2 separate regions of the Homo sapiens genome follow, and region 1 is reported to be linked to region 2. The links are microRNA targets in miRTarBase. Many come from high-throughput screens and were not tested one by one. Region 2 holds a microRNA gene; the other region holds the end of a gene's coding sequence.
The links. Region 2 holds the annotated microRNA hsa-miR-3692-3p (GUUCCACACUGACACUGCAGAAGU, at 1,872-1,895, opposite strand). A microRNA usually pairs through its seed, bases 2 to 8, with sites in the 3' UTR of a target mRNA and lowers its output. Matches are read on the target gene's strand: a 7mer-m8 pairs with bases 2 to 8, a 7mer-A1 pairs with bases 2 to 7 and ends in A, and an 8mer does both.

Region 1 (3,067 bases), not on the chromosome of region 2:
TCTAGCCTCTGCTTCTAACTAGTCCTTAATTGTAGCTTCCAAGGGAGAAGCCACGAATCTAACTGGACAGAGCACAATCAGTATGAGACCACCTTGTAAATGCAGGCATGCAACCTTCATTGACAAACAGCGCACATTTACCAGTATCTCAGACAACTGAACATGTGACCAATCTCCTTCCAACTTCCCTCCCCTCTTCCCGTGTTGTTACTCTCCCTACACACACAGGTTGGGGGGAGTAGAGGTAATATCCTGGGATCTACACAAGGGTCTAGCTGTCTTGAATTCAATGAGGGAAAAGAAGGAAAACTGCTTTGGCCCCAGACATAAATCACATTCTTTTAAGCACACAGCAACTTATAAGGAGCTTGCCCAGACTTAATAGCGTTACTCTGCTTCTCATTAAGCTAGTGATCCTCGTGTAGGGGATCCAAAAGTAGGGGAAAGGTGAGTGATATTCTGCACTTTTTTCATACAGAAAAAAACAATGAAGTCTTGGATAGAACGAAAGGACTTAAGAGCCCCAGTGATATTCATCATTAACCAAACAAATGAGTCGTTATATAGGTTAGAAAGGGCCCTGGATCCAGATGGTCACAGTTGAAATGCATATATATTGACAGACAGAGATCAAACAATCTCTTCTGGCCTTTTCTCATTATCTCAGGTTAGCGCCGTTTAGAGCAATAAACTTTTACTGTAGCCACACTTATCCTTGTCCTGGAGAGATAAAGTACGGGATTGATACATTTCAACAGGGAACAAGGCAGGAGTTGAGGGCAAGCAGACAATGCTAACAGCAAGCTTTGGCAGGGAGAGAAGGCAGCCCCAGGTCTGATGTCTGGGGTGGAAGCTAAGGGAAGGAGCCAAAGAGGATACAAAGGAAGACAAGAGAACACTCTTTAGGGATGGCTCTGATTGGATATATTTTTCATTACTGAACATTTCTATGAACTATTATATAGTTTTAATATACTATGTATGTACAAAATGAATTGCATTTCATTCCAAATTTCCACAGATCATAAAGCTCAGAAATTTAGCTGAATCCTAGCAGTTAAAATCAGGATTCATACACAGAGAACCTAAATAGATTTTGTCACTTGTCACTCTGGCTTTTTTCCACAACATGGTTTTTAAAAAGATACAATATGAGCTTCAAAAAAAATTAATTGATCCATTATTTGCAAATACATTACAGAATCTCAGATGATAAAAAACAAACAAACAACCAAAAAAAACAAACAAAAAAGACATATCTTATTCGGACACTTAAAATTTTCAAGTACTTTTGCCTTAAATATGAAAAGGTAAAATACATAGGCAACCTGAGGGCAGGGAAAATACAAGATACACTTTTTAGTTTTTCCTTCTGCTTTTCCAAGAACCACAATCACTCCAGACATCGCTTATGAGAAACAAGGGTGGGCAGAGGATGCTGTGCTGAAGGCAATCAATTCTGCACAGCTCACCAAGCAATTGCTGCACCTGCAACACAGGTATGCCCATGGATTCAGATCAGTTTATGACAGTTACTAAGAAACAGCCCTTGGGTAACTGTTCCTGTAAGAAGCATTCTCTCTTTAGTTTTATATTTAAAAATGTGAGGACTGGATCAGATAATGTGGCATGATGAAAAGACTCATGAGTGGGAGGAACATCCACCAGAAGGTGTCAAAGATCACCACTGCCTGGGTAGCCAAGCTCAACGGCATGGTCTCCTCAGGAGGAACGAAATCCAATCAGAACTATATGGACAGCTAACGCTGCTAGATATTGCTTAGTAGTCATCTCACATAGTAAGTCACTGGAATTACATGCTTATGAATAATATTGAATTTGCTCATATAAAGCTGTCACTGTATCACAAAATAAAATGATTTTTAAAAAATGTGGGTCTCTAGTCTTAGAAGTGTAAATTTTAAATATTAGGGCAACCAACTGAAATAATGGAAGCAAGCATAAAAGCTAAAAAATAATGAAAAGGCTTGCAAAACCTATCACAGCAAGAAAACATGATTATGATTTGGGCTGGTCAGTGTCACACTTGTTTTCAAAGTTTGTACCCCTGAGACAACTGTTTGATAACCATTATACAGTAGGCACAGAAATAAGCATACTTTATCAAACAAAACACTAAATCGCTGTCACTACATTAAAAATTATATTAATTTTTGTGAATGCTGTGGATAGAGGAGAATAATCTTAGAAGTTTTAAAATCTGTGCTTGGTTTTCATCTAGAAAGGAGTAAACGTCAGGCAAATAAACTTCACCTGTTACTTGGACATTTTCTCCCTGGCCTGCAAATCCACTTACAATTCCACCAAGTATACACATGAGAAAACCACAAACAACAGAACAGAAAACAGTTGCGGCGGGATTTGTTTTACATGTACGTACAAGTAGGTATTAGCCTTGAAATGCTTCTTGAAGGTAGAGTACATGAGAATTCTTTGGCTTGATCACAAAGAGCTCCCAATCTTGAGTTTTGTGGATTGAGGATTCTGAGTCACTATACTTTGGCTTTTAGACTACATTAAAAGCACATGAACACTTTCAGTGTAACTTAACATGTAGTGAAGTTCACCTCCTAACAATACTTCACAGGATCCCTCCAAGAATGCCCAGTGCTGATGTAGCAACACTAGCAGTAAGAGCTTATTGAGATGGCTGACTGAAGTGACACGGTGACACTGTTAATCGTTTGGTTTGTTCTGAAAAAAGTTTGTAAAGGACCACCCTCCTCCATTAGATTTAGGAGAGTCTTCATCTTTAGGAGGAATCAAAAATTGTCGGGAATTAATGGAGCATGGACTTCCAAATGAGACAATCTCACTGTTGCTGTCTATGGATCTAGGAGAGTCTGGAGACACTAAATTCCATGTATTTACATTGGCCTGAGGTCTGTAACCCGCAGTTTTATCTAAGTCCTCTTCTGCAGCTATATCTTCCACAGTAGAATTAATGGGGAGGTGCATCTGTGGCTTATAGCCTGCCCCTCCTACAGGGTCATTTTCTTGTTCTTCTTCTGGTTTTGCTTGAGGCTGATACATCGACTGAACATCA
Region 2 (3,137 bases):
CACTTCCGTGTGCTCCAGCCTCTGCTGACAGCGCTCCTCTGAGCTAACGATCTCTCTCCTGGGGGAGAAAAAGGGCCACCTTCTTTCTTTTGCAAAGTAGGAAGAATTTCTAAGTAAATTTTGCTTTACAATGTTTCCCTAAGAATAAAGAGGAATTGAAGATTTTTTTTTTAACATATCCGTCATCATAAACCTCAAGGAATTAGATAATATAGGACCAATACAGGTTAGAAATATCCAGTCGTTCAGACAGAGACACATGTGAGTGCAGAAGGCTAAGCTATTTCACCCACAAACTCACTAAACAATGTTGTTTCCAATAGCAGAGACATCATAATTTGAAAAATAGTACATAATAATTATGCAAAATGGAAATAAGGTGCTTTTGAGTAGAAAAGAAAAAAGGCTACAAAGGTATTTCAGGAGAAAATGGTTCTATTTCCAAAAAGGGGAGAAATAAAACAAGGTTAACAGCTTAAAGCCCACGAGCCCTGTGACACCAAGTTGGAGACTATCAGGCAAAGACAGCTTCAAAAGTGCATATTTGGTAGAAAAATGAACAAAATGAAATTCACTGAAAGTCTTTGGATATTGGGTTGCTGTTGGGGCTGCCGATTCATTTTTTCCTTCTCTAAAGGGACACAGCATTCATTCACAGATGATTCCTTTATCTCACCTAAAACAATGCCCGTGGTATCGACTATTATCCTTGGCAAAGTGCCTTTGCATTAAAACATGGTGACAGCATTTCTCGGCCCTGATGTTGGGGAGAGTTCCTACCATGTAATTATCCAGCTCAATTAGAAGACAAGGTCAGAACAAACAGATCCAGAGGGAAGGTCCATGCCTGCTAGACACACAGATGTGGTCCCACATCATTTTCTTTTTTCTTTTTTTCTTTTTAGGTAGCCTGTTACTGTTTCATACACATGGTTTTCAAAGTAACAGGCAGCCAGATAGTAAGACTGCAGGGAGCAAATGAAAATTCACATTTTTTTGATTGAGTACCTATATTGCAGGCAGTTTCACATATAACATTTCATATAATGTCTACAGAAATGTACACAGCTAATTGTCTATGACATTGGTATTACTGAGACCATCTCACAGATGAGGAAACTAAGGTTCATTAATTTGACTGATAAGACTTATAAGAGGTTCATTACTTTGAGCCTGGTTTAGCTAATAAGTTTCATAACCAGAAGTCAATCAGATGTGGCCGCCATCAAAGCCCATGGGCCCAAGGCATGGTCTCTCAATTGTACCACAATGAGGCCTACACTTCTGTTTTGCACTCTACACATTTTCTTAGTGGAATACAATAACAGCTGTACCTGTTTTCACCTTTTTATAAGGATCTCAATGATCCTCATTAAATGTAATTAAGAACACAGTGAAACCTGAAACTATTCTGCGTGAAGGTGCCTTGTCCAGTCTGGGGAGAAGACAAGCTCGGAGTCTTGGGTGACAAAGTCGCTCATTGATGGATTGCCAGCAGTCTGGTAGTAACGCCTTAGTGACTGAAGGTCAAGAACATTTCTCTTGGGCTCCGCTTCCCAATTCCAGTTGAAGAATAACAAGCTCTGTGGTTTCTACACAACAGAAACCACAGATTCCCAGGGGCCCTGTCAATCAAGCTTGACACTAAATGGTGATGACTGCTCCTGTTATTGCAAAATACATGTATACTAAACAAAGACCGTACTGGTTAGTTTTGCTTAAATACTGGAGGATTCTGACCAGTACAATGCTAAAACATAAACTTTCATTTATGAAAAAAGATAAACTTTCTAAAATTCCCAGGTTATACTCAAGAAGTAACTTGCTCCCTGTGAAGAGAGGGTGGGGTTGCAGAGACTCCAGAGATCTCCACTTCTGCAGTGTCAGTGTGGAACTGTATCTATTGCTCCAGTATCCACTCCTGACCAGCAGGAATGGCAAAGAACCTCAGAAGAGTACAGGTGGTAGGTGCTGAGTAAAACTGGAAGTCTGAGTGTGTCTCCTAGACACTAGCAACTACAAGGATATACTTTCAATGAAACTCTTTGAACTCATTGGGAGAAACCTGAAAAATACCATGTGCTGTTGAGGAATTAATGCCCACTCCCACCCCCAGTCTTCATCTAATTATGCTTTTATAATTAATTAATTAATGCCCACTCCCACCCCCAGTCTTCATCTAATTGTGCTTTTTAAATTAATTAATTAATGCCCACTCCCACCCCCAGTCTTCATCTAATTGTGCTTTTTTAATTAATTAATTAATGCCCACTCTCACCCCCAGTCTTCATCTAATTGTGCTTTTTAATTATTTTATTTTATTTTATTTTATTTTTTTGAGATGAAGTCTTGCTCTGTCGCCCAGTCTGGAGTGCAGTGGTGCGACCTCGGCTCACTACAAGCTCCGCCTCCCGGGTTTTTGCCATTCTCCTGCCTCAACCTCCCGAGTAGCTGGGACTACAGGCACCTGCCACCACGCCTGGCTAATTTCTTTGTATTTTTAGTAGAGACAGGGTTTCACCATGTTAGCCAGGATGGTCTCGATCTCCTGACCTCGTGATCTGCCCGCCTCAGCCTCCCAAAGTGCTGGGATTACAGGTGTGAGCCACTGCGCCCACCCTATCGTGCTTTTTAAATTAATTGATTAATGCCCACTCCCATCCCCAGTCTTCATCTACTTGTGCTTTTCCAAGTATATTCATCTATGGTTAAACTTTCATATCATTTCTTTACTTTTCTTTTAAGCCACACACTTCTGAGATTAAAAAACAACAACAACAAAAAAACTGTTCAGCTCATTTTGAAATACAACAGAAGTATTCCTGAGGACTTCCCCATGGCAAACACGATTATTAACTGATTACTAAAAAGAGAAGGGCAAAAGGCAAAATAATGGACATTAGATCTAGGGAAAAATGGTGGAAACAACCTTAAAGAATACGGTGGAGAAACATCTGGAAAAAGCATATTTAATTAGAGAACACCAAGAGGGACTGAAACAAAGGAAATCATGCCTGGCTGGCCTGATGGAAGGCTTGGAAGGTGTGACTGCCATGAAAGCTACAATCAATTAAATAAGTGCCACCTTTCTTGAATTTTGCCAAGCAGATGGCAAAGTTGGAGAATCAACAGGGAAA

Region 1: the mRNA of LIFR is a reported target of hsa-miR-3692-3p. Seed matches in the 3' UTR shown: 8mer at 1,120-1,127 and 8mer at 1,013-1,020.

What each region holds. Positions count from the first base shown.
Region 1 is chr5:38,478,898-38,481,964 of GRCh38, forward strand. It overlaps LIFR (LIF receptor subunit alpha), which reads right to left. Exons shown (of 20, transcript NM_001127671.2): 20 at 1-3,067. The coding sequence ends at 2,698. Among named protein-coding and RNA genes, the nearest start is that of EGFLAM-AS5, 12 kb to the left of the region's middle.
Region 2 is chr6:157,527,933-157,531,069 of GRCh38, reverse strand. MIR3692 (microRNA 3692) reads right to left here and starts at 1,938; the gene lies at 1,870-1,938. All of the region lies in intron 1 of ZDHHC14 (zDHHC palmitoyltransferase 14), which reads right to left. RefSeq lists an enhancer at 1-321.